7 linked regions of the Homo sapiens genome follow. The protein of the gene in region 6 purifies or fractionates together with the protein of the main gene of each other region. This does not show direct contact. Each region holds a gene or a part of one and is shown on either strand. Other genes may lie near its edges.

Region 1 (4,268 bases), on a different chromosome or scaffold from region 6:
GGAATTTGAGACTAGCCTGGCCAACAAGGCGAAACCCCATCTCTACTAAAAATACAAAAATTAGCTGGGCGTGATGGCGGGCACCTGTAGTCCCAGCTACTCCAGAGGCTGAGGCATGAGAATTGCTTGAACCCGGGAGGCGGAGGTTGCAGTGAGCCGAGATTGTGCCACTGCACTCCAGCCTGGGTGACAGAGCAAGACTGTCTCAAAAAAAAAAAAAGTTCGAAGTCCTCTGCAGGAAGGAAGCCTAAAATCCCGAGCATATCATGGAGCTCCCCTCTCTCCTTAGACTCCTAAGAGCTCATGGTGGCATCTCAAAGGACGAGCCCAGGTTCTGCGGCTCCATTCTGAACTCAAGGATCAGGTCTGTTGTTCACCAGCCACGGGTACCCTAAAGGTTCTGGCACTCAGAGTCCTCTGAGAAAAGGAGACCAGTCCTTATGGTGCCAGGTCTGGCAAGAGTACCCAGAAGCAATGCCAGTGAAGACATTGTCATGAAAATGACCCTAGTTGAGCCGGTGCAGTGAATGGCGTCTGCTTGTAGGCCCAGCCACTCGGAAGGCTGAGGCAGGAGGATCACTTGGGCCCAGGAGTTACACAGCAAAACCTTTAAAAAAAACCTTTAAAACCTTTAAAAAAACCTTAAAAAAAAAAACAACAACAACAACAACAACAACAACAAAAAGCCCCTAGTCCGTGTTCGCCTGCAAGGCCCTGTACTTTAGAAGCCTCCTCTCTCTGATTCCTCACATTGGCCCCCAGGAACTATCATTAGTCTCTTTTCACAGAAAAACAAACAAAGCCTCAGAAAGGTTCATGACCTGCCCAAGAGCATGGCAGACAAGTGGTGAGCATGGCACAGGAACCCGAGCCCGCCTGTGGGGGCCAGACACACTACTGTCCTACATTCACGGGAACCCGGGCTGCCTGCGGGAGCTGGCCGCACTGCCGTCCTGCGTTATCTTTCCAGACAAGGATGCAGCTGCAAAGCTGGGCAGGCTGTGGGCAGCAGGGGCCTCTGGCCTTGTCCCCTGGTCCTCACTGTCCCACAGAGTCCATTCCTCAGGAGCCACTGGGACTGGGGCCCCCGGGTGGGCAGGGGGTAGGCACCCACCATTCTTCATCAGGATCTTGATCTGATCGGCCAGGGGCAGCGTGCGCAGCTGGGCCATCGACAGGACGTTGCTGGGGGCCACAGGCTTGTCTCTGGGAAAAGCAGAGGGGACGGGTTAGAGGCAGCCAGCCCGGAAAGGGAGAGGGTGTCCTGCCGCCTCTACTCACTTCTCCTCCTCCTGGCTGGGTGGCATCAGCATCATCAGGTACTCACTGCAGGGACATGGCAGGGGCAGAGGCTCAGGGCTGATCCAGGCTGGACCCTCCTCACCAGCCACCCAAGTGAGGGTCTGGGGAGAGGGTGCAGACAGCCCACCCCCGCCCTCCCCCAGCAGCCCTGAGCCCCTGCAGAAAAGTGGACCATCTCTTTCCAGGCCCACCCTCCTGGCCTTCTCCAGGGGACAATGGGCTCCACCCTCATGCTACAGGAGGGGCCACAGTCCTCTGGGAGGATCCACACCAAGGACCCCTGGGGACCCTGGGCAGGCATCCAGTTTGCATGCTGGCCCAGCCCATCCCACCTGGGTGACTTGACGAGCTCCGTGTTCTCCACCCCGCTTGAGCCGGGGCACAGCAGGTACTGACGCTCATGCTCAGAGCGACTGTCCTGTTGGAGGAGGGCAGGGTGTGAGAGGAGCCTCAGCTGATGGCCCTGGCCTGGGCCCCCTCCCCCAAGGCCTCCCGTCTTCCACTCCATGGCCAGCCACAGGACCACATCCAACCTCCTGAGCACGGCACCCAAGGCCTCTGACGTGGCCTCAGCCACTCATCTTCCTGGCCTTATGACCTGCCCAGCCCCAGCCCCCAAGCCTCGATGCCTTGTCTGTAACACAGGTACACCACCAGCAATGACAAAATGATGGCTAACATTCACTGGGCATCTAGGATGTGGTGGACTCTGTTCCACTGACTGTAAATATACTAACCCATCTCACCCTCAAAATAACTTGGCAAGGTAGGTACTATTATTACTACTCTCATTTTATAATTAAGAAAACTGAGGCTCAGAGAGGTTAGCTAACATGCCCAAGGTCACACAGCAGGAAACAGCAGTGTCTAGAAGTTTGACCCCGAGTCTAAGGGTCTGTTAACACAAATCTCTTCCAAGAAGGTTCCAGAGAAATCAGGAGTTGTTCCCCACCCCAGAAAATATTGGGAGCCCTGGCCCATGGTGTCTTTGGAAGCATCCCTCACTCAGTACACAGTTTCAAGGGTTAGGTTCTAAAATCAATGCACCAGGGCCAGGTGGTCGTGGCTCACGCCTGTAATCCCAGCACTTAGGGAGCCTGAGGTGGGCAGATCACTTGGAAATCAGGAGTTCGAGACCAGCCTGGCCAACATGGCAAAACCCCATCTCTACTAAAAAAACAAAAACAAAAAAATTAGCAGGTGCCTGTAGTCCCAGCTACCTGGGAGGTTGAGGCAGAAGAATCACTTGAACCCGGGAGGCGGAGGTTGCAGTGAGCTGAGATCGAGCCACTGCACTCCAGCCTGGGTGACAGAATGAGACTGTCTCAATAAATAAATAAATAATAAATAAATAAAAATAAAAGTAAATAAAGTCAGCGTACCAGATGAAAACCAAGCACAGTAAGAAAATCCCCTGGGCAGGTGGTGCTGGGAACTCTGGGGTGGCAACACATGACCGACCCTCTAGGACAGAACCGGAGAATGCATCTGGCCTGCGTTTAGGGCCTGGGCTGCAGCGAAAATATGTTACCAGGCACTAGCCCCACTGCAAGCCCAGCAAGATGCCCATGCCCAGGGGCCAAACCCCACCCAGGGAACCAAGGACTCGCATCTTTTCCTCTTGCTCTCCTGGGGCCCACGCTAAGTGGCTCGGCTGGAGTGAAGTGTAAACTGCCCACAGGACTCGATCCTCTATCTGTGGCTATGACTCATGAATTTGACTTAAGTTCAAGGTGAGACACGGAGGCCACACCATGACCCTTCCGGGCACCGAGGTGTTTCCCCCAGGACCCCACGAAGCCCCGCTCACCCTCAGGCCATAGTAATGCAGGTGGACCCAGGGCTCCTCTGCGTGCTTCTTCTGCAGGAACTCATAGGACTGCACACGGCGCTGGCGGGCCTGCTCTGACTCCGGCCGGGAGAACCGCACCTGCGGTGGGAAGGGGAAGAGGTCATACCGTCAGGCCTGTGACCCTTGCTGGACTGCCGTCTCAGCCCCTGCCAGAAGACCAGAGAACTCCGTATAGGGGTTTTCCACTCTCCCTTCCTTTCCTAGCACAGGTCGTTTAAATTCCGTTCCAACCGTGTCCCTCCCAGAGCTGCCTGCACACGCCAGGGAACGGCTTATACTTGCTCGTGCCTGCCCAGCCCAGAGGCTTGAGGGGGATTAGAGTCCCAGGCGCCAGAGCCAGCAGAGTCCTTAAAGCAGACAGGCCCAGGATGCCTTTTCTAAGTTCCCCAGAGCGGAAGGGAGTTTCTAAGGTCCTAATAAGCTACGGAGAGAACAGGATGAGCTCCCTGCGCCACCTCCATGTCCATTACGCCCGTGTTCCCCGGTCCTCAAGGGCTTCCAAACACTCACCACTCTCTAGCCATACTTGTGTATCATCATTCTACGTGTAGCATTTTTCTTTTGGTACTACTCATTTTAATCTAAATATGCTTAAATAGGGAAAACTTTACAAACCATAAATGGAAGGTTAAGATTCTTTGAAAAATCTTTAAAATTCAGGAATAACTATTAAAACGAAAACTATTCATCCGTGCCCCATAAAGAGGATAGAATCACAGTTAATTGACTTTGGCTCTGTTAAGATACAGGTTCATGGCAGAGCTGGTCTGCGGGTCCTCAGGGCTCCTGGCCCCAGCTTCCTGCTCCCAGGTGACTCTAGCCAAGCCCCAGGCACACATCTCCTGGATCCAGCCAGGGCTTCCATCTTGTGTATAGCTGGAACAACTCAGGTTGTTCCCTCCAGGTAGCCCAGCAAGAAGGCTCAAAAGCATGGGCCCTGTCTGCTCCACCTGCATTCTGTGAAGACCCGCTACCCCTTGGTCTCTGGTCCTGCTGCCGCCCAGGCAGCACCCTCCTCCTCCAGGGGCCAGGGCTCACCGTGATCTGCTTAACATCGTCTTCCGCCTCATCCTGTGAAGAGTCCCCTGCTGCAAGAGAGACAAGCCACTGACTG
Region 2 (4,268 bases), on a different chromosome or scaffold from region 6:
GGCAGCAAAGTGAGACCCTGTCTGTACACACACACACACACACACACACACACACACACACAAAATTAGGCAGGCATGGTGGTGCATGCCTCCCTAGCTACTTGGGAGGCTGAGGTGAGAGGATCACTTGAGCCCAGAAGTTCAAGGCTGCTGTGAGGTATGATCGTGCCACTGAACTCCAGCCTGGGTGATGGCAAGACTCCATCTTAAAAAATATAAATAAAAGGATAATAGTGGTGAGAGGTGACAGCATGCTGGCAGCCCTGGCTCGCTCTCAGCGCCTCCTTGGCCTTGGCGCCCACTCTGGCCACGCCTGAGGAGCCCTTCAGCCCGCCGCTGCACTGTGGGAGCCCCTTTCTGGGCTGGCCAAGGCCGCAGCCGGCTCCCTCAGCTTGCCGGGAGGTGTGGAGGGAGAGGCGCGGGTGGGAACTGGGGCTGCGCGTGATGCTTGCGGGCCAGCTCGAGTTCCGGGTGGGCGTGGGCTCCGCGGCCCCGCACTGGGAGCGGCCGGCCGGCCTGCAAGCCCTGGGCAGTGAGAAGCTTAGCACCTGGGCCAGCAGCTGCTGTGCTCGATTTCTCGCAGGACCTTAGCTGCCTCCCCGCGGGGCAGGGCTTGGGACCTGCAGCCCGCCATGCCTGAGCCTCCCCTCAGCCCCCCACTGTGGGCTCCTGCGCGGCCCAAGCCTCCCCGAAGAGCGCCACTCCCTGCTCCACGGCACCCAGTCCCATCAACCGCCCAAGGGCTGAGGAGTGCAGGCGCACGGCATGGGACTGGCAGGCAGCTCCACCTGCGGCCCAGGTGCGGGATCCACTGGGTGAAGCCAGCTGGGGTCCTGAGTCTGGTGGGGACTTGGAGAATCTTTATGTCTAGCTAAGGGATTTTAAATACACCAATCAGCACTCTGTGTCTAGCTCAGGGTTTGTAAATACACCAATCCACACTCTCTGTATCTAGCTAATCTAGTGGAAAACTTTTGTTGTCTAGCTCAGGGATTGTAAACACATCAATCAGCACCCTGTCAAAACAGACCAATCAGCTCTCTGTAAAACAGACCAATCAGCTCTCTGTAAAATGGACCAATCAGCGAAATGTGGGTGGGGCCAGATAAGAGAATTAAAGCAGGCTGCCTCAGCCAGCAGTGGCAACCTGCTGGGGTCCCCTTGTACACTGTGGAAGCTTTGTTCTCTTGCTCTTTGCAATAAATCTTGCTGCTGCTCACTCTTTGGGTTCACACTGCCTTTATGAGCTGTAACACTCACCACGAAGGTCTGCAGCTTCACTCCTGAAGCCAGCGAGACCACAAACCCACCAGGAGGAACGAACAACTCCAGACACGCCACCTTAAGAGCTGTAACTCTCACTGCAAAGGTCTGCAGCTTCACTCCTGAGCCAGCGAGACCACAAACCCACCAGAAGGAAGAAACTCCGAACACATCCGAACATCAGAAGGAACAAACTCCGGACACGCTGCCTTTAAGAACTGTAACACTCACCGCGAGGGTCCGCGGCTTCATTCTTGAAGTCAGTGAGACCAAGAACCCGCCAATTCCGGACACAGTGGAACATTATTAATAAATCTATACCCACAAATTTGAAAACTTAGATGAAACAGGCCAATTCCTTGAAAGATATAAAGTACCAAAACTCATACAAGAAATAGATAACCTGAATAGGCCTGTATCTGTTACAGAAATTATACTGATAATTAATAACCTCCCCCAAAAGAAAGGACCAGGACCAGACAGTTTCAATGGTGAATCCTACCAAACATTTATGGACAAAATGAAACCAATTCTCTAAAATCTCTTACAGACAATAAAGGCTGAGGGAACAATTCTTTACTCATTCTGTGAGGCCAACATTACCCTAATTCTAAAACCAGAAAAGACATTACAAGAAATGGAAACTACATACCAGTATCTCTTAGGAACACAGATGCAAAAATCTTCAACAAAATATTAGCAAAGCTGATTCGACAATGTAAACAAAGAATTACAACCATGACCAGATGGATTTGTTCCAAGTATATAAGCCTGGCTCAACATTCATGAATTATTTTGTGTAATTCATCACATCAACAGGCTAAGGAAGAAAACTCAGATGATCACAGCAATGGGTATGGAAAACATATTTGATAAAATCCAATATCAATCCATGATATTTAATATTAAAAAAATCTTAGCAAACTAGGAATAGAGGGGAACTTCCTCAACTTAAGAACATTTACAAAAATCCTACAGCTAAGATCACACTTAATGGCGAGAAACTAGAAGCTTTCTCACTAAAATCAGAAACAAGACAAAGATGCTACTCCCTCATTACTCCTACTCAGCACTATACTGGAAGCTCGAGCTAATGTAATACAACAAGAAAGGGAAAGAAAAGACATACCTATTGGAAAAGAAGAAATAAAACTGTCCTTGTGATAGTCCATGTAGAAATCCTAAAGAACTGCCAAAAAAAAACCCGTCCCGGAACTAATAAGTGATGATAGCCAAGTCTCAGTATACAATATTAACATACAATAGTCAACTGCTTTCCTATACACCAGCAACAAGCAACTGGAGTTGGGAATAAAAAATACAATACCATTTACGTTAGCACTAAAAGAAAAAAAAAGAAAAAAAGAATTAGGTACAAATCTACCAAAATATGTACAAGATCTATAATCCCAGTAATCCCAGCTACTCAGGAGGCTGAGATGGGAGGATCCTGAGCCCAGGAGTTTGAGACCAGCGGAGTTACACAGCAAGACCTCATCTCAAAAAAGAAAAAACAAATTAGTACATTGTTGGTGGGAATGTAAATTAGTACAGCCCTATGGAAAACAATATGGTGGTTCCTCAAAAAACCACAAATACAACTACCATATCATCTAGTAATCTCACTTCTGGTATACATCCAAAGGAACTGAAATCAGTATGTAAAAGAGATATCTGCACTCCCATATTCATTGAAGCATTATTCACAATAGTCAAGACATAGAAACAACCTAAGTGTCCATTAATGAATGAATAAAGAAAATGTGGTATAGATACACAATGGAATACTGGAGGACATTACACTAAGTGAAATAAGCCAGGGACAGAAAGACAAATACTGCATTATCTCATATGTGGAATTCCTAGAATTCCATACAGTTCCATTCCTAAAAGTGGAGAGTAGAACGATGGTTACCAGAAGCTGGGGGTGGGGGACTTGGGGAGAGAGGGAATAGGGAGCTGTTGATCACAGAGTACAAAGTTTCTGATAGACAGAAGGAATAGGTTTTGAGATCTATTGCACAGGAAGGTGACTATGGTCAATAATAATGTATATTTCAAAATAACTGAGACTGAATTTCAAATAGCTCATCATAAAAAATTATAGGCAAGGCAATGTTAATTAGCCTGATTTAATCATTACATGTTGTATATATGTATCAAAACATCACGCTATACCGCATAAATGTATACAATTATAATTTGCCAATCAAAAATAATACTGATAATAAATTTTTAAAGCTAATGATGTAGAAGATAGAGCTGAAGAAATTATCCATAAAATAGGAGAGTGAGACAAAGAGAGAAATTATGAGAGATTAAGAAGCTTGGATGATCCACTTAAACTGCAGTGAAAATGCAGAAGCAGAAAATTTAAAAAGCTACAAGAGAAAATAGAGATGAACTACAAATATATAACAAACTGACAGGAAGCTTCAACAGCTATAATCGAAGTCAGAAGACAATAAAATACTAGTTTTGATGCATTTAGGAAAAATATCTGTCAGTGAAGAATTCTTTAAGTAATTCAATTCTTTAAGAAAAGTCAAGAGAGCAGAGCCGTAAGAACCAGAGGAAAACAAATTAAGCCTGAAATCAGTCCTATTCAGACTTCCAGTTATATGAACCAATAGACTTCCTTATTAAAAACTGATTTGGTTTGTTTACCTATTGGTAAAAACTTTGTAAGGACTTAAAGACCATGACATTTTAATTAAATAATCATATGTGTTTCACCCCATCAAACCCTATATGTTTTTATGAGTATGGGAAAAGGTGTGGAAGAGTTCACATCTAGGAGAATGACAACAGGCATTCAATAGAGTTACAAAGAGGTTTTTTTTTGTTTTTTTTTTGAGATGGAGTCTCACTCTGTCACCCAGGCTGGAGTGCAGCAGCACGATCTCGGCTCACTGCAATCTCTGCTTTCCGGGTTCAAGTGATTCTCCTGCCTCAGCCTCCCGAGTAGCTGGGACTACAGGCGCGCACCACTGCGCCCAGCTAAT
Region 3 (4,268 bases), on a different chromosome or scaffold from region 6:
AAAATGCAGCTCAGCCTAATGCCTCCTGTTCAGTTCTGTGGTGCTGCCTACTTCCTGTGCCCAAATTAGCCTTGCGTTTATAACTAGGAGGAATGACTTGGTGTCCTACAATATTTTGGCTCCTGGGCTTCTTTGGTGTTCATTCTATTACTAGTTGATTTTTTTTTTCTTGGAAAGAAAAGTATTCAAAGAGCCAGAATTTACTTTCATTATATCTTACAGTTGTTAAATTAACCTATCCTTGTTTTCACTTTCTGTGTACTTCTTTCTTTGGGGTACAAAACAGTGTTTCTTTAGATTGTCTATTTCTAAATATTATTTTAACCAGAACATACCAAATATATTTTCCTGCCAGTTTCATTCTTCATTTTACTTCTTAACCATTGTTACGATTTTTTTTTTAACTTCGGTCTCAGATTTTGCTCAATTGAAGTTGTCCCAGTTCATGAGATTTTGTTTTCTTTGCAGCTCTTGACCATGACAGATGTGACCAGCACACAGATTGTTACAGCTGCACAGCCAACACCAATGACTGCCACTGGTGCAATGACCATTGTGTCCCCAGGAACCACAGCTGCTCAGAAGGCCAGGTCAGAGGCTGTTTCTTAAAGATTTCAGAAAAATCCCAATTTGTCATAGGTTTAGCTTTTATAGTGTATATGGTATAAATAATGGCCCAGAGTTACTTTTCAAATGGGTTTCTATTTGGATTTTATTATCCCTGAGGTTTTCCTTTAGGAAGAGATGTTCTGTATATTTCAAGGGTCCTACTAGCCCTGGGAATTTGTGTATTGTGTTTTAGAAGAAGGTAGGACTGTTGTCCCTGGGCATGGCTGTGACTAAGCACTGGATCCTTGGTTTGAGGCATCTGATAGTGACCTCACTTTACCAGTGCCAGGTTTTGATAAAGTTAGGGTTTGAGAGTGAGTCAGGTGTACAGCGGCCCATATTGAACTGTGGAAATGACAGACTTTGCAAAATCTCCTTGTTTTATATCTTGGTTTGGCATAATCTCACTGCTCATCATATATAGATTTTTAAATTTAAGTTATAAGATGACCCAGGCTTTTATAGTTTTTGACAGCTTACAAGACTTTTTTTTTTGTCAGTCTCATACAGTTCATAAAATAGAAAACTTTCAGACTTTTGAAGTGAGCATTTGAAAAGCACCAAGTTCAACATTCCCATTTTACAGATGAGCAGGTTGAGGCATGGTGTTTAAAAGAGTGGGCTGCTTCCTTGCCAGTTAAAAGCATGTCCTTGAGCAGAACATTCCATTGCAGTGTTCCCCACTGCAGAGCTACTGCAACTTATCTATCTATCTGTCTGTCTGTCTGTCTATCTATCTATCTATCTATCTATCTATCTATCTATCTGTCTATCTATTTATTTGCAGTTTGCTTCCTCAATTAGATTTTGTTGTCTATAATATCCTGTTGGTCCTCACCATAAGTTCTCTCTGTGGATACAAAAGAAAAGCTTTTGTCCACTGTGTTCTAGATCTCCATTTTTAGGTATGAGAATTGCCCCAAGGATAACCCCATGTACTACTGTAACAAGAAGACCAGCTGCAGGAGCTGTGCCCTGGACCAGAACTGCCAGTGGGAGCCCCGGAATCAGGAGTGCATTGCCCTGCCCGGTAGGCCTTGCAGGGTCATCTTGGTGTGTGTGGGTCCATTACTTCAGCCTGCTTCCCCCAACACTGTGCAGCCTAAGTTGAACCTAGCAGAGGGGAAGAGCTAATTCTGTCCATTCATCCCCCACACGAGTATTATGGGCTTTTTTGTTTTTAACTAAAATACAGTTCTTAAGTATTTGTTCCTACTGTCCTTTGAAATAAAGTGAAACATCCTTTGCTGCTCTGTAGAATTGAGTGACAGCTTGGTTCTGTATCACTGAGCCTGCTCCTTGTCTCTTTCCCATCCACCTTTGATAACCTGGGACTAGACCATGATGTCTCAGCAGTCAGTCTGCTGAGCACTTTATGGAGAGTACTTCTTATTAACCACTGGGATTTAATTGTTGGCACCTGCTAATGGGCCTTCTCTGAGAAGGAGAGGATAGATACTTCTGTCAGCAGCACCTTTTAGGGGTGATCTCCAGCCCTGAAAACCTCAATATATCCTGCTTCTGAGGTTCAGGATGATGAACTCAGGGCCTGAGACCAGCCAGCCATGTGATATATTTGGACCAGGGTGGTCCAGAAAGGGGAACTTCCTTGTCTGTGCACAACATCTGAGCTTGTTCAGGGAAGTTGGTTTGGACCAGGCCCTTTTTGAATGTCCCTTGGAAGTTTTTGATTCAGCTTGCAGAGTGGGACTCTTTTCTATATCTCAGTGTGTCTCAAATTTTAAGGTACAGGAAAAGACCTGGGAATCTTGCGAAAGGCATATTCTGGTGCAAGTGTGGGGTGGGGCCTAGAGTGTGCATTTTATCTAGTCGACTGCTACACTGTGAGGAGCAAGTCTTTGTCTGTTCTTAAATGATCTCTTTCCCATGGTACCTTTCTTTTATCTCAGTGACTGTTACTGTTAATGAACATTGTTGATGTCTCCAAAGTACTTTGGTTCTGGTGAAGTTGCTTTGTTCTTTCATTGTCTTCCAGGAAGCATTCATAGCTTCTGTGCAGTACCTTGTGTGGGTTCAGGATGATCACAGGTAGCAGATTACAAGCTTGTCTTGTATGCTATAGCCATATCACTTGGGTTGTTTCTCAAGAAGGACCTTCTCACCTTGCTTTTGGGATGCTTTGTACACTTGATTGTACCTTCCACCTGATGATATGAAAACAGTGCAGCTTTTGGAGACTATAGATTTGTTAATTCCTTGATTCATTTCCATTCTTGCAGTTTTTACCCCAGCCCTCCAATATGCATATTCATTTGTCTGCTCTTCACTTAGGATTTTAGTTTTCTAATTGTTCTTCAGAAGGAAGTGTACCAGTCTAATATTGGCACCAAACTGGTGTTTTCATCTAAGACATAGGATAAGTGACCTCAGAATATGCTTTTTAGGATCCGGGAGATATCACCAGTAAACATTTTAAAATTCTTGTATTCTGCATTTGGTCCTTAATAATGTGTCAGAGGCTCCCACATCCTAATGAAGTACCTAGAATTTAAATTAGAAAGGCCATTTCGGTATTCAGTAATTTGAACTCATAATACAGTAGTTTTGTCTGATTTCTAAAATTCTTTTCTTTCTCTTTTCCCCTTAATGAAAGAAAATATCTGTGGCATTGGCTGGCATTTGGTTGGAAACTCATGTTTGAAAATTACTACTGCCAAGGAGAATTATGACAATGCTAAATTGTTCTGTAGGAACCACAATGCCCTTTTGGCTTCTCTTACAACCCAGAAGAAGGTAGAATTTGTCCTTAAGCAGCTGCGAATAATGCAGTCATCTCAGAGCATGGTGAGTTAAAATCCTCAAAACTTAAGTTTCTGGTTATCCACCTTTCTACCAAGGGCATGACTGCAGCTTGCATGTGGAAGGCTGTGGATATGTGTGACGTGCTTGGCAAGAAGGGGAGTGCTGGTGAACGCAGCCTGAGGGACTGTGGGTTTGTGCTGTCAGAGTCTCTTCCTCTTAAAATTTTTAATACTTTGTATATATAAGATCTATGAATAATTATATGGGGGATGAATTGTAACATGTATATGTGTACATAATCTGGTGACATCAGTAGATTATTTCATACCTGTTTTACCTCTGGATTCTGCTAGGGGAGAAAGAGAGGTCACTGATAATTAGCTAGGTTGGATTAAGCCACCTGAGTTCCTTGGAGTTAAGGTATTATAATAGTGCATAAGACTGTATAATTACCACTAAGAAGTGTACATCTCAGCTGGATGTGGTGGCTCACACCTGTAATCCCAGCACTTTGGGAGGCTGAGGTGGGTGGATCGCCTGAGGTCAGGAGTTCAAGACCAGCCTGACCAATATAGTAAAACCCCGTCTCTACTAAAAATACAAAAATTAGCCAGGCATGGTGGTGTGCGCCTGTAATCCCAGCTACTCAGGAGGCCGAGGCAGGAGAATTGCTTGAACCCAGGAGGTGGAGGTGGCAGTGAGCTGAGATTGCGCCACCGCACTCCAGCCTGGGTGACAGAGCGATACTCCGTCTCAAAACAAAAAAAGAACAGCAAAAAAAAGAAATGTACATCTCCTTGGGTCTTTCATAGCCCAGCCATCTCAAAAGAAGAGAGCACCTTCTTGTCAAGAGTTTCTAAGCCCAGAAAGGCTCAAGTTCTCTGCTTGTCCACCCA
Region 4 (4,268 bases), on a different chromosome or scaffold from region 6:
TCGACTCACTGCAACCTCCGCCTCCTGGGTTCAAGCGATTCTCCTGCCTCAGCCTCCTGAGTAGCTGGGATTACAGGCGCCTGCCACCACGCCCGGCTAGTTTTTTTGTGTGTTTTTAGTAGAGACAGGGTTTCATCATGTTGGTCAGGCTGATCTCGAACTCCTGACCTCAGGTGATCCACCTGCCTCGGCCTCCCAAAGTGTTGGGATTACAGGCGTGAGCCACTGCGCCCGGCCTGGATATGCTTTTTAGTTCAGGTGTGGCTGACCCTCTCAATCTGTCATTTAGGTAGTTCAGTAAAATACTGTTCTAGGGAATGTGGTAGAGTCAGGGAGGGAGGACAGCAAGATGAAACCAGGAACACCTGTTTGAAAACAGCTGCTTTCCCGCAAGCTCCCACCAGGCTGTTCTAAGACGAGATGGAAAGGCACTTACCATTCTGTCACATCCCAAGCAAGGCGACTGTTCTGGTTTTGTTGGATTGTTAGTTTAACATCTGTGGTGATCAGAGTCAGTTCTGTGTCTCTGTGTAATTAATTAAATGGCTTTAGGACTGTGTTAGTAATTAATTGGCTTTGGGAGTTTTTTTTTTTTTTTTTTTTGAGACAGTCTCACTGTTATCTAGGCTGGAGTGCAGTGGCACAATCTTGGCTCACTGCAACCTCTGCCTCCCAGGTTCAAGCGATTCTCCTGCCTCAGCCTCACAAGTAGCTGGGATTACAGGCGCCTGCCACCACCCCCGGCTAATTTTTGTATTTTTAGTAGAGATGGGGTTTCGCCTTGTCAGCCAGGCTGGTCTCAAACTCCTGAGCTCAGGCAATCTGCCTGCCTCGGCCTCCCAAAGTGCTAGGATTACAGGCGTGAGCCACCGCGCCCGGGCTATTTGGGCATGAATTCTAAACTGGGATATGAAAGAATTCAGCAATGGCAAAGTTCCTCATGGAGGTGTGCCATGCTCAGAAGTGCAGTGTGCCCTCCCACTGGCCCCTCTTCAGTGGGCCCTGAGTAGCTGCTCGTGTTTGATCTCCCTGTAAGAAAGGCAGTAGCTGAAAAGCACCTAAGCTGCCAACACTGTGGAAACCCCCGCAATGCTCCCTTTCTTCACAGTGACATACTTGTTGTAATACCCATAGTAGCCTCTGAAACGCTCCAGCAGTGCCGGTCGGGGTAAGATCCCGCGTCGGTACCCAGCTTGGCAGCTCCTCTGGTTTGACATCTGTGTGTTTTCTCCCATTCCCTGCTGTGACTGATGCTGCTTTGGAGTCCTGGTGTCTGCAGTGCCGGGCTGCTGGAGGGTGCTGGGGAGGGAGCATACCGGGAGTGTCATTAATGAATGGCCTTGTGATTTGTGCTTGCTTGTTTGGTGGGAATAGATTGATTCTTGTTTTCTGCCTGTGCTTAAATGGGATAAAACTATATGGAAAAAGTAAACCAGGCTGGGCGCGGTCGCTCACACATGTTGTAATCCCAGCACTTTGGGAGACCGAGGCAGGTGGATCATTTGGGGTCAGGAGTTTGAGATCAGCCTGGCCAATATAGTGAGACCTCATCTCTACTAAAAATACAAAAATTAGCTGGGCATGGTGGTGCGCTCCTATAATCCTAGCTACTCAGGAGGCTGAGGTGGAGAATCGCTGTAACCTGGGAGGTGGAAGTTGCACTGAGCCAAGATTGGGCCATTGCACTCCAGCCTGGGCAACAGAGTGAGAGTCTGTCTCAAAAAAAAAAAAAAAAAGTAAACCTTTTTACCATACTTTAAAACAATCTAGAAACTATTACAAAATAAAACAGAAATCTAAAGTTTTTTTTTGCAGGAGGAGGAAAAGAGACCTGGTTGAGTTCAGTGCCATGATACCCAGAGTGCATGAAGGGATGTGTGTGTGTGTGTGTGTGTGTGTGTGTGTGTGTGTGTGTGCGCGCGCACGCTGATTTGTAGAGGGAAAAGTGGGGAGCAGGAGCGCCACCTGGGGGTGGCTACCTGCTGTCTGCCCTGAGGTTGCACATGGCAGCCCCCATTTTCCAAAGTCCCTTGGTCTTGGAGGCCCAGAAACCTGCTGTTGTCAGCACGTGGAGAGTGTTCATCCATCAGGGCCAATGGCATGTTAACCAAGCTCCCAGACTAATGTGTGCGAATAGGATTCCGGTTAACTTAGCATGGGAATGCAGGCTGGGTGCGGTGGCTCACGCCTGTAATCCCAGCACTTTGGGAGGCTGAGGTGGGCAGATCACCTGAGGTCAGGGGTTCGAGACCAGCCTGACCAACATGGAGAAACCTCGTCTCTACTAAAAATACAAAATTAGCTGGGTGTGGTGGTGCATACCTGTAGTCCCAGCTATTCGGGAGGCTGAGGCAGGAGAATCGCCTGAACCCGGGAGGCGAAGGTTGTGGTGAGCCAAGATTGCACCATTGCACTCCAGCCTGGGCAATAAGAGTGAAACACCATCTCAAAAAAAAAAAAAAAAAAGAAAGAAAAACAAAGAATGGGAATGCGTATGTCCTCACAACCTCATTCATTCACTGTCCTGCTGTGCACATTCCTAAAAGGGAAGCTAAGGGATGGTCAGAAGGTTACGTGGTAATCGTAGAGTCAGAATGTGGGGAGTTATTGGACTTAGACAATGGGTGACCTCAGGCTAAAGTACCTGATATCTATAATGGTATTAATAGCTGACACTTACATGGGGCTTACTATCTGCCAGCCATTGTGTTGTAAGTGTGTTATATACATTGGCCAATTTAATCCTCACAACAGCCTGTGAGGTAGATATATTGTTATCCTCATTTTTGAGACAGGGTCTTGCTCTGTCACTGAGGCTAGAGTGCAGTGGCAAGATCAGGACTCACTGCAGCCTCCACCTCCCGGGCTCAAGTGATCCTCCCACCTCAGCCTCCTGCGTAGTGGGACCAGAGGTGTGTGCCACCACACCTGGCTAATTTTTTTGATTTTTAGTAGAGACAAGGTCTTGCTCTCTTGCCCAGGCTGGTCTTGAGCTCCTGGGCTAAAACAACCCTTCCATCTCAGCCTCCCAAAGTGCTGGCATTACAGGCGTGAGCCACCCCACCCTGCCTATTATCCCCATTTACAGGTGAGGAAACTGAGACATCAAGATGCTAAGTGACTTGCTGAAGGTTTCTGAGCTAGGAACATTTGCCAACCCTTGCACTGAGGGTTCTTTGCTGTTTTGTTTTTCTATTCAGCTATTTATAGGTTATGCCTTCAGATTTATTAATGTAGCCAGTCATTTTGCAGTGGCATTTGCTGGCCTAGGGACCCTTCTGTTTAAGGTGATTTTGTATAGCTCTGATCTGTTATGAATTTGATTTTGGAGTTTTAGCTCAGAAGGCAATTTGCCTACTTTCCCTGTTGAAATGCTTGGAAGTAAATCATCCTGGCCATAGTGTCCACTGAACAACATAAATGTTGTTTTAATACCCTAAAAATCCTGACATGCAGCTAATTTTTTTGTATTTTTAGTAGAGACAGTTAGCCAGGATGGTCCTGGGAGGCAGAGGTTGCAGTGAGCCAAGATTGCGCCACTGCACTCCAGCCTGGGCGACAGGGTGAGACTCCGTCTCAAAAAAAAAAAAAAAAATGAAAATAAAAATCCTAATATGAAGGAGTGTGGGTGAAGCGTGGATCACTGTTACTGAATCACCCTGCAGATGCTGTCATCCTATTGTGGAAGGTGAATGATAACAAGGAGCCGGAGCAGATCGCTTTTCAGGATGAGGACGAGGCCCAGCTGAACAAGGAGAACTGGACGGTTGTGAAGACTCTGCGGTAACTTGGGAGGGACCATGGCAGTGATCTCTGTTTACGATGAGTGCATTAAATGGAATATACCTTTTGACTTTTTTTTTCTTTTCTTTTGAGATAGGGTCTCATTGTCGCCCAGGCTGGAGTGCTGTACTGTGATCACAGTACCCTGCAGCCTTGACTTCCCGGGCTCAAGTGATCCTCTCACCTCCCAAATAGCTGGGACTACAGGTGCATGCTACCATGCCCTGCTGATTTTTAAATTTTTTTTTTTTTTTTTTTTTTTTTTTTTTAGTATTTATTGATCATTCTTGGGTGTTTCTCGGAGAGGGGGATTTGGCAGGGTCATAGGACAATAGTGGAGGGAAGGTCAGCAGATAAACAAGTGAACAAGGGTCTCTGGTTTTCCTAGGCAGAGGACCCAGTGGCCTTCCGCAGTGTTTGTGTCCCTGGGTACTTGAGATTAGGGAGTGGTGATGACTCTGAAGGAGCATGCTGCCTTCAAGCAT
Region 5 (4,268 bases), on a different chromosome or scaffold from region 6:
TGTTTTGTTTTGTTTTGTTTTGTTTTGAAATGCATCTCGCTCTTGCCTGGGCTGGAGTGCAGTGGTGCAATCTCGGCTCACTGCAACCTCTGCCTTCCGGGTTCAGGCAATTCTCCTGCCTCAGCCTCCTAAGTAGCTGGGATTACAGGCATGCACAACCACCCCTAGCTAATTTTTGTATTTTTAGTAGAAACAGGGTTTCACCATGTTGGCCAGGCTGGTGTTGAACTCCTGACCTCAAGTGATCTGCCTGCCTCAGCCTCCCAAAATGTTGGGATGACAGGCATGAGCCACTGCACCCTGCCAGATACTATGACTTTTATGTAGACATCTGCATTAGTGTGAGGGGTACATCTGAAAGGGGCATGGTGTTCCCTGCCTCAGCCTCCCAAAGTGTTGGGATGACAGGCATGAGCCACTGCACCCTGCCAGATACTATGACTTTTATGTAGACATCTGCATTAGTGTGAGGGGTACATCTGAAAGGGGCATGGTGTTCTGTGTTCATGGAATTAATCAGAGCCTTCCAGCTTGGCTGGGCTATGGGGGAGGTACTGCAGACTTCTCTTAGGTATCTAGAGAGGATAAGAGCAGATACTCCCCTTGTCTGTTTTATTTTTATTTACTTTTCACACCTTGCCCTGTTGATGGATATTCTTATTTGGAGTATCCTTTTTGTACCAATATGGAAACCAGTGTTTGGGTTGTAATATTTACTTTTAAGTAAAGATTCCAATTGTGAATTACCAATGGTGAGAACTGCCTTAGAGTATCCTTTTAATTTTCGTATGTATTTATGGTAGGAAAAAAAGGATTTCTGGGAAATAAAAAAAGTCTCTAGTTACATAGAGAAGCATCGTATGTGCCCAGTTCTATTGGGTATGTATGAAGGGATCAGTAGACCTTCATGAAAGTTTCATCTTTAACTAGTAGCCTTTACTGTTGTTTTCTTTTCCCCTCGACAACAAATTGTGCAACATCTAAAGTCACTGATCAGTCTTAACATCACTGAAGTGGAGACAGCCAGGCAGTGTGTGCTTCCCGGTGTAATGTGATGTGGAATAGAGCCGTCCTGTTTTCTGTGGAAATATGTTTCAAGTCCCTCAGTGGATGCCTGAAACCTCGGATGGTTTCACACCCTTTCTATACTATGTTTTTTTCCTATACATATATCCCTGTGATAAAGTTTAATTTATAAATTAATCATGGTAAGAGAATAACAATAATAATAAAATACAACAATTATAGCAACATGCCAGCATCACTTCTCTTGCACTTTGGGGCCTTAGTTATGTAAGATAAGGGCTGTTTGAACACAAACAATACAGGGACATTTAAATGTATCTTACTTTATTAGTAGTTTAGTAGCTGAATGTATCTGCTTGTCTGTCTCGGGTAGGTGGGTAGACTATACAGCGTGGAAACACAGGACCAAGGGATGATGATCTGAGTCTCAGGTGGGACAGACAGGGATGGAGAGATTTCATCATGCAACACAGAATAGCATGTAATTCAAAACTATGAATGGTTTATTTCTGGAATTTTCAATTTAATATTTTCGGACAGCAGTTTCCTCAATAACAAACCACTGAAAGTGAATCCACCGATAAGAGGGGACTACTGTGCATCATAACCCCGTGAAGTGTTCTTGCCAAAAAAATGAACTTGTGTCTGATAAACCTCTAGATCTAATTACAAGTTTACAAGAAGCATGAAACGTATAACCACCACTGTGAGCCACACCTGGGAGACGGGAACAGCTTCAGGACATATGTTCTCTATTCTTCCACAAACAAATGGCCTGTTTTTTAAAAAAAGGAGATACTTTTATAGATCAAAAGATATTTAAAGATATATATTAGTGAAATGCAACATGCAGTTCTTAGATCCTGATTCAGAGAAACCTGAAAAAAGCAATTGATGCAAACAGGGAAAATAGAACATGAACTAGGTATTAGATGATGTTAAGGAATTATTGTTACTTTTATTGGGTGTAATAATTTTAATGTAGCCGTATTTGGTAAAAGTCATCTTTTGGATATCAGGAGGTATTGGTAGGTTAAAAATGTGATTTTTGAGGGGTCATAAAGGAACTGAATTCCAAGTTAATGGATGTGTGTTTTGCTTTTGCTTATTTGTAAAAATTTGAAAAATACTCATAATAACTGGTAAAACATCTTTTAAAAATCTCTTTCAATTTCAGCAATTCCAAAAAATTTGAGTTTTTTTTTTTGCATTCTCTTTTAATTTAAAGAATTGAAGCACTTTAAATTTTTACTTCAAAGCTGCTGTGAAATTTCAGTTTTTCTCATTATTAATGCATTTATATTGTTACACTTTAGCCTCATAAATTCAAAATTGATCAATGCGAATTCATTTCATCTTATGGAAATAATCAATTTCTGAATACATAAAGGCATACATTTCTTGTATCTTCTTCTTTTACAAAGATCTAACTAAAATTATGTTTCCAGCTTAAATTTTGTATGTTGCTGTTTTACTCAGTGATTCTACAAATCAACAATCCGTGGGTAAAATGGAAAAAGGCACAGTTGACCTGAAACCAGAAACTGCCTACAACTTAATACATACCATTCTGTTTGGATTCTTGGCATTGAGTACAATGAGGTATTTTTGTCTTACCTGTTTGTTTACTTTTTATTTGATCACTCTTGATGTTACTTAGCAATATAATTTGGAAAGTGACAATCATCTTCATTAATGATCATGGTTCCCATAAAATCATCCTTATATCCTATCTTCTCTCAGTATAAAATACTCAACATCAGTTTTTACAATTAATTACAAACACGCCTCTATGTTTTACTCAAAGCATAGTCTTGAAAAGGCAGTGGAGTTAAACAACGAACCCTTCGGCAAATGGCATCTGCATAGTTTTAAGTAAGATTTTGCCGTCATAGACTGTAAAGCTGCCTTTATAGGTGTCTCAGAATCCAGGTTTATATACAACTAGTACTTCTGACTTGCGCCTGTGTCTGTTCTTGCAGAATGAAGTACCTCTGGACGTCACACATGTGTGTGTTCGCATCATTCGGCCTATGTAGCCCTGAAATATGGGAGTTACTTCTGAAGTCAGTCCATCTTTATAACCCAAAGAGGGTCAGTGTCATCCCTTTTTCCATCTCCTTTTATGACTTGCAGTATTTCTTTCATACCACTTCTTTTTTTGTTTTTCAGTAGCTGTGAGATAAAATGGATACTGAAATTGAAGCTGAAAATACATAATTGATATATTAAGATTTTATAGGGAATTATTTTAAAATAATTTTATTTTAAAAAATTACTTTTTTCTCAGACTATAAGTTAGATATGTTCATTATACAGAATTTGGAAATACAAAAAAAAGCACAAAAGGGGAATTAAAATTACCAATAATCCCCTTGTCCGGAATTATAACTGTTGTTATTATAATGTATTTTCATAAAGATAATTATTTATATATGTATGACAATTTTTCAGTAGCCTATAAATGCAGTTTTGAATTGTTCTACTCCATAAATTCACTAGGTGGCAATATAGTAGAAGCTGCAGATATCTTACAAATGATTAGAATCCTAGTATCGACTCAGTTATTCTGCATATTGGAGACTTGTGCTCCATTAAATTATATTTCTGGTAATTTTTTAAGGCATATATTTACAAAGCAAAACTGTAAGGCAGAAGTGTTTAAAAAAGCCGGGCACAGTGGCTCACTCCTATAATCCTAGCTGCTCAGGAGGCTGAGACAGGAAAATCACTTGAGCCCAAGAATTCCAGGCCAGCCTAGGCAAACATAGCAAGACCCTGTCTCTCAAAAAAGAAAAGGTTCAAAATACTTATAATCTAAATAATGTCTTTCTTATATAGATATGTATAATGCGATATTCAGTACCGATATTAATACTGCTGTATCTATGCTATAAGGTAAGACTGATTTTCCTCATTCTTGTCATTCATGTATTTAGCAGAATAATTGCTTTGATTCAATATATTTTGTGTATTATTTGGCAAATAGAGTGGTTTGTGAAGGTTATAAATACCTCCTTAGCTTCTTACTGAAGGTGACATTGATGGGAAAATGGATCTTTTTCCCAAATAGTTTTAACAAGTAAAAACATGATAGCGAAAACTACTATAGCATTTAATAATTCTAATTAATTTTGATTTAGACTCTTAATATTCAGCTGATGCAAATTCTGAAAATAAGGTGTTTTCAGACCTATTTTGAAATGAAAGTAGGAAAATTATTTTCCCATTACCTGATTTAT
Region 6 (4,268 bases):
TTCTGTGTGGCTGGTCTCCAGGCTTCTGTCCTTGACCCACTTCTCAATTCATTCTCCAAGTGTGCCTGGGGAGCCTCCTCTCTCCCTCAGATGGCCTGGCAGTGGTACCTCCAACAAACTATCCTAATTATCCCCCTTCCTGCCAAGACTCCCTCTGCACGCATGTTCTCTAGCTCTGTGGAAGACACCATCATCCTCCTATCACCCGAGCAGGCCCCTGGGGCAGCCCTAATTCAGGGTTTCCTTCATGCTGCACACCCAGTCATTGCCAAGTACAGCTAGCATTGCTTCCCAAGGACCTCTCCCATTGCCCCCGCCCACCTTCCACAGCTTCATTCTCACACAGGCATTGCAGTCCTCAATGTCTCCATCTCCCCCTCTTTCCTGCCCTCCTTCCAGGGTCCCACCGTGTGAATTCCACCTTGACGCTTCCCTGTTCAAAACCTTCAGTGGCTCTCTCTGGCCTTGAGGGTAAAATCCAAGTCCTTGAGCATCCTCCCATATCCCTACCCACTCCCCATCCTGGGCCCTTTCCTATCTCTCCAGCCCCATCCCCTGACACTCCTTGTCTAGAACTTTACCCTCCAGACCTTACAGTGCAGACGTCGAACTTTATCGAAACCCACACCCTGCCAGTTTTCACCTTTGCTCCTGTGACTCCTCTGTGTGGAGTGCCTTTGCCCTCCTTAGTATCTATCACCTCCACCTGGCTAACTCCTACTTAGCCTGTGAGACTCCAATGTCACCTCCTCCTGGAAGTCCTCCCTGATCATCCCCCATTCCTCCTTGGTGTTCCCAGATGACATGCTGCATTATGTGGGACTATTTCTTCCGCCTCCCTTACTGATGAGGGAGTGCCTTGGGAACAAGATCTGGCCTGGCTTAACAGATGCCTCAGTACCCAGCAAGGGAGCTGGACCTGAGTTGGTGCTCAACAACCATTTGTTGAATGACTGGGTGAGTGAATGACCCTGCCCTGAGACATGGATAGCTGAGGCAGGAGTCATTGTGTCCTGGGTAGTGCTGGGCCCCAGGCTCACCAGTGCAGAGCAGGCCTGTGCCGATCCATCGAAACAGCTGCATGTGCTCCCTGCAGAAGCTTCTGGCTCTCAGGGCTGGCTGCAGGTTCCTCCTGGGAACAAGACCAGCAGGGTCCATGAGTGCATGAGCAGACCCCATCTGGGGGAGATCCTCAGCACCTCCACTCAGGTATGTCCCCAGTAAAGTGGCAACAGGGGCAAGCCAGGGCTTGCCTTGACATCCCCACAGGGCTGCAGGGCAACCCCAGCCCAGGGCAAATGTAGAAATGGTTCAGGCCTTCCTGCCTCTGTGGCAGCACCCACAGGCCCCACTACCCCAGTGATAGTCCCTGCCTCCAGGGCTCAGGAGGAAGTTCACTGAAAAGGCAGAACCTCATCAACATACAGAAATGTGGCCGGTGGGGGGGCGCGGTGGCTCACACCAGTAATCCCAGCACTTTGGGAGGCCCAGGAGCGTGGATCACTTGAGCCCAGGAGTTCAAGACTAGCCTGGGCAACATGACAAACCCCTTCTCTACCAAAAACACAAAAATTAGCCAGGCATGGTGGCGTGCGCCTGTAATCCCAGCTGCTCAAGAAGCTGAGGCAGGAGAATCTCTTGAGCCCAGGAAGGGTTCGTGCCACTGCACTCCAGCCCAGGCAACAGAGTGAGACCTGCCTAAAAAAAAAAAAAGAGAGAAAGGAAGGAAGGAAGAGAAAGCAAGCAAGCAAGAAAGAAAGAGAAAGAAAGAAAAAAGAAAAGAAAGAAGGAAGGAAGAGAGAAAGAAAAGGAAGGAAGGAAGGAAGGAAGGAAGGAAGGAAGGAAGGAAGGAAGGAAGGAAGGAAAGAAGGAAGGAAGGAAAGAAGGAAGGAAGGAAAGAAGGAAGGAAGGAAAGAAAAGAAAAAGGAAAAGAAAAGAAAAGAAAAACATGGATGGCTGCCTCCCCTCCCCTGTCGTTCATCCACCTGCCCATGGGACACACATTGAGTAGACGCCCACTCAATGCTAATTGGAATCCACCCACCAGCTGCCATTTTAAGGAGCCTCACCTCCTCTCAGTCCCCACCTCCCACCTCCTCCTGAGAGGGTGGAGGAGGCATTCTTCCCATATCCCCTGCCCAGGCAGAGAGACGGAATCCCTCCCCCACCACCACCCCCTGCCCATCACGGTGTCCTCAGCTCCGGATCTGGCCAACAAGGACCCAGATGGCCCAGGCATCAGGAGGTGGAGTTCTATGCTCACCTCAGACACTCGCTGCCTATGCCATCCTGGCTGGTCCCTTCCCCTCTCTGGGCTTCTACCTCCCTGTGTAAAATCAGGGACCTTGCCCAGTTCAGGATTTTTAACCGGAGTCTTCAGACTCCCCGAGGTACCCCAGAGACTGAATGGGGGTAGAAGGCAGAAGGGGGAGGTTGAGAGGGAGGCCTGGCTGGTTCAGGGCAGGCCCCACGGTACATACTGGGGTTCCTGATGGGATTTCGTTTCAGCTGTTCAAAAGCAGGTGGGGAGCCTGTGACTTGGCTCACCCTCGAGGCTCATGTGCCTGTGCGTGTTGGCTAAAGCGCCTTTATTCCTCCCTTCAACAAAGGTTCACGTCCCCCCAACTCCCATCCGCCAGGAGGCCCGGCTCCCCATCCTGTTCCCAAGCAGCCTCCACCCCAGGCCCGCCCTTGTCTCTCCAGAGATCACCTACCATCTGGAGAAGGGCTTCGGCGCCGCCTCGCTCCAGCTGCTCCTGATCTCTGCGGGGCTCAAGTCACTCCTAGGGAGCTGGCCTTCCTCCTACAGCCCGCAGGGAGCCGTCAGGTCGGCCTGCCCCTTACCCACCCCCAGGAACTTACAGCTGGGGGTCGGGGGCCACGGTGAGACCCTGGCTGAGGAGGGGACTGGGCTGGGGCACAGGGAGGAATTAGAAGGCTACTAAACTGGATTCTGCAAGGCAGGCACTGAGCACCTACTGTGTGCAGGGCTCTGCCAGACACATCTTGCCCTCAGCGAGCTCATGGTCTGCGCAGGGACAGACACCTGCGGCCCAGCTGTGACTGAGAGGGGCCGAGGGGAGGCCTGTAAGGGAGGCCCCAGGCAGGGCTACCTCATCACATGACCTCAGGGCACCATGCACCCACCGTCTGTGGAGCTGTTTTGGGTGGGGGGTGGGTATTCTTGCATATGACAGCGTGAAAGGAGCACCCCAAGAGACAAGGGCAGTGAAGGGGAGGGGGCTTTGTCAGAGGAGCCTGGGAGCGTGCAGGGTATCCTACCAGGCTCCGAGTTCTGGGTGGTGTGCCTCGACCTGACCTGGCCACTTGAAAGCAAGGACAAGGCTCCTTGAAGGCTGAGATTTCCTTAGAGACCCCCCTCCCCCATCATCTGGTTTTGATTCTCATTCTGTAGGTCACAGCTCTAATGTCACTTCCTCACTGGGGCCTGCCCTGCCCTTTCAGACTAGGACTTTCAGACTATAGTGCACACAGTACGTGCTCAGTCAATGTTTAATGAGTGAAATAAAGGGGTCTGCCTTGTGTTGAGGAGGCCAACACACTGGGAGGTTCATAACTGTGCCAGCAAAGAGGTGAGAAGGGGGCAGAAGAATGGGGTATGAGGGAAGGTGGTGAGCAAAAGCCTCATCACCTCGGCAGCCGGGCTCAAGCCAAAGAGGCTGAGGGGTCAGGATGACTGATGGGGAAGGGTACAGACCAGGCTTTCCAAGAAATCAGCCCCCATGTTCTCCAGACCCTTGGCCACAGGTGTGAGAGAGATGGACTCTCTTCGTCTCGAGGGGTCGTTCTCCATGTCCCAGACCTTCCAGCTGAAAGACAAATCAGGGAGCGCCCAACGCTGAAAGGGAGGCCGGGCAGGGCCCAGTTTAGGGGCCCGGGGAAAGGGGAGAGGACTGAGTGGGGGGAGCAGATGCCTGGCACAGCCAGAGCCCTGCCTGGGGGCCACCTATGCCATCCCAGAGCTCACCCCTCCTTGTGACTGGGACTGCAACCTTGACTTCTCAGCACATGGAGGAGGTACCTCTTCCTTTTTCTAGAGACTGGGTCTCCCTGTGTTGCACAGGCTGGCCTCCAACTCCTGGGCTCAAGCAGTCCTCCCACCTCAGCCTCCCAAAGTGTTGGGATTACAGGCGTGCGCCACCACCCCAGCCTGCACCCACATCTGAACCTGTAAGAGGCAAGTCCTTGTGAACTCTGGGAGTTCCAGGCAGAAACAGCAAATTCTGCCCACTTCATAGGGAAGGAAA
Region 7 (4,268 bases), on a different chromosome or scaffold from region 6:
TTGTAAGTGGACTGTTTATATGGTACTTACTAAATTCAAATATGGGCACGTAATGAAAGTGGGCATTAGCTGCACATACATTAAATGGAATTTAGTAATTTAAAAATATCGATTCATTTTTCTTGAAAAATTAAAAAGGGAGAAAATTCATCTATAATCTAAGTTTTTTTGTTAAATTTAACTGTGGAAAATTTTTGGAAACTGGTTTCCTTAATATGCTGTTCAGCCAAAAGTTTTGGAAGGTCTCCATCAAGAAAACAAAATTATTCATCAAAAAATGAAAACTGTGTGGAAGAAACTTTTGAAGATTTGCTTTTAAAGTATAAACAAATACAGTTGGAACTAGAATGCATCAATAAGGATGAAAAACTAGCATTGAGTAGCAAAGAAGAGAATGTGCAGGAAGATCCTAAAACATTGAACTTCGAGGACCAAACTAGCACTGATAATGTCAGTATTACAAAGGATTCAAGTAAAGAAGTAGCTCCTGAGGAGAAAACACAAGTCAAAACTTTTCAGGCATTTGAATTAAAACCACTCAGGCAAAAATTGACTTTACCAGGAGATAAGAACCGTTTGAAAAAAGTTAAAGATGGAGCAAAACCACTTTCCCTGAAATCCGACACTACTGATTCTAGTCAAGGTAATGGAATTAAATATTTCAGTTAGTAATGACTCTTCTTCCTCTAAAGTAGTAACTACTTGTTTTGGCAGTGTACTTCATTGAAATGATTGTAATTATCTGTAAATTCTTTTGTACTTTCTATGTAGACATTCATATCATTGAATAATTACTAATTTTGTTTACTTTTAGTCTTTATTTATTTATTTATTTTTTGCCTGACATTCTGGCCTCTATAATAGAATGTTATACATAAGTGATAATAGTGGACACCTTTGTTTCCTAATTTAAAGAAAATGGTTTTGACATTTACCATTAAATATGATGTTAATTTTTTTGTAGGTATCCCTTATCGGGTAAAGGAGGGTTTTACTCCTATTCCTGGTTTGAAATTTTCAGCGTGAATGGATGTTGAAGTTTACAAAATCTGTTTTCTTCATTATTGGGATGAGCATCTAATTTATTTTAATTTGTTAGTGTAATGAATTATATAATTTATTTCTAGTATTAAACCACCCTTGTATGCTTGCGTTTAATACAGTTTATGATATACCATTTTTAAATCATGGATTTGGCTTGTTTTTTCTTTTCCTCTTTATTAAGATATAATTTATATACAGTAAAATTTATCTTTTAACATTATAAATGAATAAGTGTGTAGTTCTTCAGGTTTTGACAAATGTAGACAGTGGGTAACCATCACCAGCTACCATTAAGATACAGAATTCTTTCATCAACCTCAAACAGTTTCTCCAAGTGTCTTTGTAGTTATCCCGTCCCTCAGCCCTTAGTTCACCTGGTAACCACTGATCTGTCCCTATAGTTTTGCCTTTTCCAGAATGTCACACTAATGGAATCATACAGTATATTGCCTTTCATTATAGCTTCTTTCATTGAGCATAATGTGTTTGAAATTCATTCATGTAATTGTATATGTCAGTAGTTCTGTGTATCCCATCATACTGTAGTTCATCCATTTCCCAATTATGTTTGGGTTTTTCCAACTTTCGGCTATTACAAATGAAGGTTTGCTAGTGTTTTGTTTAGAATTTTTTATGTGTTCAGAGCCTGTAATTTCCCCCCCCTCTTTTTCCTTGACAGTTTTTAGTGTAAGGTTATAATACTCAAATTAGTTGGGGCTGTTTTCATCTTTATTCTCTGTAATAGTTTAAGATTGGAAACATTCTGAGATACTTGGTAGATCTTGCTGATAAAAGTGTCTGGGCCTGGGTGGAGTTTTTTTCTGAGAAAGTTTTAATCTAACTTCGTGTTTTCTATTTCTGTTAAGACAGTTTATGTAAACTCTATATTTTTTGTAATGTGTCTATTTCCTGTAAGTTACAGAAGTTATAAAAATTGTTCTTAAGAATCCTTTACTTTTTTATCTGTAGTATTTATAAGTTGTACCTTTTTTTTCCCTGCTCTCTTCTTTAATTTACCCTGAAATAAGTACATAAGTTTTTAAACTCAGTTTTCAGCCTCTCTCCTATTAAGATCATTTTAGGCCATAAAGTTTGACTTTAGTTCTGTCTCAAGTTGGGTTATTTAACTTTTTTCATTCATTCTGAATATTTTCTAATTTTTATTTTTCATTGACTTGTAGGCTGCTTGGAAGTATGTTTCTTCTAAACATGTAGGTTGTCTAGCAGTATTTTTTATTGATATCTAAGTCAATCATACTGTCAGAAAATAAGATTGCTATGATAACCAATCTTTTGAAATACTTGGAGACTTCCTTTATTGTCCAGTATGTAATCAGTTTTTTGTAAGAGTTCTGTGTATGTTTGAAATGAATTTATAGATTACTTGAGCTTTTTGTGTTGTTCACTTTTTTTATTTTTTGATATGCTTGATCAGTTACTAAGAGGAGTTTGTTAAAATTTGCCAGTATGATGATGGATTTGTGATTTTTACTTTTTGCTTTAAATACTTTGAAGGTGGGTAATTGAGTCATTATGTAGTGACTTTATCTCTGATGTTTTTGCCTAAAAGACTATTTTGTCTTATATTAATAGCCACATCATCTTTCTCTTTATATAATTTCCCACTCTTTCAGTCTTTCTGTATCCTCATGTCTCGGATATTACTTGTACATAGTATAGAGCTGGTTTTAATTTATAATTCAGTATGACAATCTTTGTCCTTTAGCTTGAACGTATAGTCTACTCACATTTTTTATGATTATTGACATTTGGTTTTATTTCTTCTTCTTTTTTTTCTTTTTAGGCTCTTATTTTTCTTCACACAATTTTTTTTCATTTGCTAGTTTGGAAGTTGGATACTAAATTTCTGGTCTTATATTCCTACCAGTGTTTAAAGTTAATCAGGAACCTTACTCTTTCCCCGAAATACAAAGAATGATATTTGCTTAGCTTTGCCTATATATTTAGCACTTTCTTGGCTCACTCTTTGTATCATGTCTGGAATTATATATGTATAAATATATTCTCTGTGTGTGTGTGTTTTAGATAAGATCTCACTGTGTTGCCCAGGCTAGAGTGCAGGAGTATGATCATGACTCAGTGCAGCCTTGACCTCCTGGGCTCAGGTGATCCTCCCACCTCAGCCTTCTGAGTTGCTGGGACCACAGGCATGTACTACCATGCCCGGCTATGTTTTAAAAATTTCTGTAGAGACGGGGTCTCAGTATGTTGTCTAGGCTGGTCTCAAACTCCTGGGCTCAAATGATCCTCTTGCCTTAGCCTCCTAAAATGCTGGGATTACAGGTGTGAGCCACCATGCTCTGTGCTTAAATACATTCTTTAGACTTTTTTTTTAAAAATGTGTTTTTGCTGGGTGGAAAACGATTTCCGTTTACTCTTTTTAAAAGATATTTTCCCTGGGTTTAGAATTCTAGGTTGTTTAATTATATGCTTTTTGTTTGTTTGTTTTTGAGACAAAGTCTTTCCCTGTCATCCAGGCTGGAGTGCAGTGGCACTATCTTGGCTCATTGCAACCTCCGCCTCCTGGGTTCAAGTGATTCTCATGCCTCAGCTTCCTGAGTAGCTGGGACTATGGTACATGCCATTGCGCCCGGCTAATTTTTGTATTTAGTGGAGCTGGGGTTTCGCCATGTTGGCCAGTCTGGTCTCAAACTCCTGGCCTGAAGTGATCCGCCTGCCTTGGCCTCCCAAAGTGCTGGGATTACAGGCATGAGCCACCACACCCAGCCCCTAATTATATTCTTACTGACAATATTTTCTGGCTTCCATTGTTGATTTTCAAAACTCATCTATCAGTCTTAATGGTTTCCAATTTGAAGATAATCTTTTTTCTTTGGTTGTTTTAAAGATCCTTTTTGTCTTTGATATTCTGTAGTTGAACTGTGTGATGTGCTGATTGTAGATTTCTTTTTATGTATCCAGCTTGGAATTTGTTGTTTCTTGAATCTGGATTGGATCTTGCAGTGGTTCTGAAAAAATGATCATTATCTCTTAGAATATTATCCCATTCTCTCTCTTTTTTGGAACTCTGTATAGATGTATGTTATGTTAAGTCATCATACTTTATCTTTCATGTCTCTTCATTTCTCTAAGTTTCTGTCACTTTGTAATTGACAAATTCTGGAAAATTTCCTCTGATACATCTTTCGTTTTACTGATTCTCTCTTCTGCTGTATTCGATTTGCCTTAAGCCCACTTACTGA

The links.
Region 1: the proteins of SLC28A1 (region 6) and POLR3E purify together in Homo sapiens (affinity purification with mass spectrometry; one large-scale study listed by BioGRID and IntAct). This does not show direct contact.
Region 2: the proteins of SLC28A1 (region 6) and TMED5 purify together in Homo sapiens (affinity purification with mass spectrometry; one large-scale study listed by BioGRID and IntAct). This does not show direct contact.
Region 3: the proteins of SLC28A1 (region 6) and ATRN purify together in Homo sapiens (affinity purification with mass spectrometry; one large-scale study listed by BioGRID and IntAct). This does not show direct contact.
Region 4: the proteins of SLC28A1 (region 6) and CHAF1B purify together in Homo sapiens (affinity purification with mass spectrometry; one large-scale study listed by BioGRID and IntAct). This does not show direct contact.
Region 5: the proteins of SLC28A1 (region 6) and DPY19L3 purify together in Homo sapiens (affinity purification with mass spectrometry; one large-scale study listed by BioGRID and IntAct). This does not show direct contact.
Region 7: the proteins of SLC28A1 (region 6) and ZFC3H1 purify together in Homo sapiens (affinity purification with mass spectrometry; one large-scale study listed by BioGRID and IntAct). This does not show direct contact.

Annotation. Positions count from the first base shown.
Region 1 is NC_000016.10:22,314,053-22,318,320, reverse strand, and holds part of POLR3E (DNA-directed RNA polymerase III subunit RPC5), read right to left. Parts: intron 4,243-4,268; coding exon 4,193-4,242; intron 3,233-4,192; coding exon 3,113-3,232; intron 1,721-3,112; coding exon 1,635-1,720; intron 1,327-1,634; coding exon 1,282-1,326; intron 1,207-1,281; coding exon 1,115-1,206; intron 1-1,114. UniProt on the Homo sapiens protein: DNA-dependent RNA polymerase catalyzes the transcription of DNA into RNA using the four ribonucleoside triphosphates as substrates.
Region 2 is NC_000001.11:93,169,858-93,174,125, forward strand, and holds part of TMED5 (transmembrane emp24 domain-containing protein 5 isoform 1 precursor), read right to left. Parts: intron 1-4,268. UniProt on the Homo sapiens protein: Potential role in vesicular protein trafficking, mainly in the early secretory pathway. Required for the maintenance of the Golgi apparatus; involved in protein exchange between Golgi stacks during assembly.
Region 3 is NC_000020.11:3,575,359-3,579,626, forward strand, and holds part of ATRN (attractin isoform 1 preproprotein), read left to right. Parts: intron 1-468; coding exon 469-590; intron 591-1,500; coding exon 1,501-1,639; intron 1,640-3,223; coding exon 3,224-3,414; intron 3,415-4,268. UniProt on the Homo sapiens protein: Involved in the initial immune cell clustering during inflammatory response and may regulate chemotactic activity of chemokines. May play a role in melanocortin signaling pathways that regulate energy homeostasis and hair color.
Region 4 is NC_000021.9:36,387,886-36,392,153, forward strand, and holds part of CHAF1B (chromatin assembly factor 1 subunit B), read left to right. Parts: intron 1-3,665; coding exon 3,666-3,783; intron 3,784-4,268. UniProt on the Homo sapiens protein: Acts as a component of the histone chaperone complex chromatin assembly factor 1 (CAF-1), which assembles histone octamers onto DNA during replication and repair.
Region 5 is NC_000019.10:32,460,861-32,465,128, forward strand, and holds part of DPY19L3 (protein C-mannosyl-transferase DPY19L3), read left to right. Parts: intron 1-2,505; coding exon 2,506-2,628; intron 2,629-3,008; coding exon 3,009-3,120; intron 3,121-3,867; coding exon 3,868-3,924; intron 3,925-4,268. UniProt on the Homo sapiens protein: C-mannosyltransferase that mediates C-mannosylation of tryptophan residues on target proteins.
Region 6 is NC_000015.10:84,887,307-84,891,574, reverse strand, and holds part of SLC28A1 (sodium/nucleoside cotransporter 1), read right to left. Parts: intron 4,190-4,268; exon of another isoform or gene 3,989-4,189; intron 3,831-3,988; coding exon of another isoform or gene 3,815-3,830; coding exon 3,719-3,814; intron 2,804-3,718; coding exon 2,715-2,803; intron 1,133-2,714; coding exon 1,041-1,132; intron 1-1,040. UniProt on the Homo sapiens protein: Sodium and pyrimidine nucleoside symporter of the plasma membrane that imports uridine, thymidine and cytidine into cells by coupling their transport to the transmembrane sodium electrochemical gradient.
Region 7 is NC_000012.12:71,653,260-71,657,527, reverse strand, and holds part of ZFC3H1 (zinc finger C3H1 domain-containing protein), read left to right. Parts: intron 1-226; coding exon 227-643; intron 644-4,268. UniProt on the Homo sapiens protein: Subunit of the trimeric poly(A) tail exosome targeting (PAXT) complex, a complex that directs a subset of long and polyadenylated poly(A) RNAs for exosomal degradation. The RNA exosome is fundamental for the degradation of RNA in eukaryotic nuclei.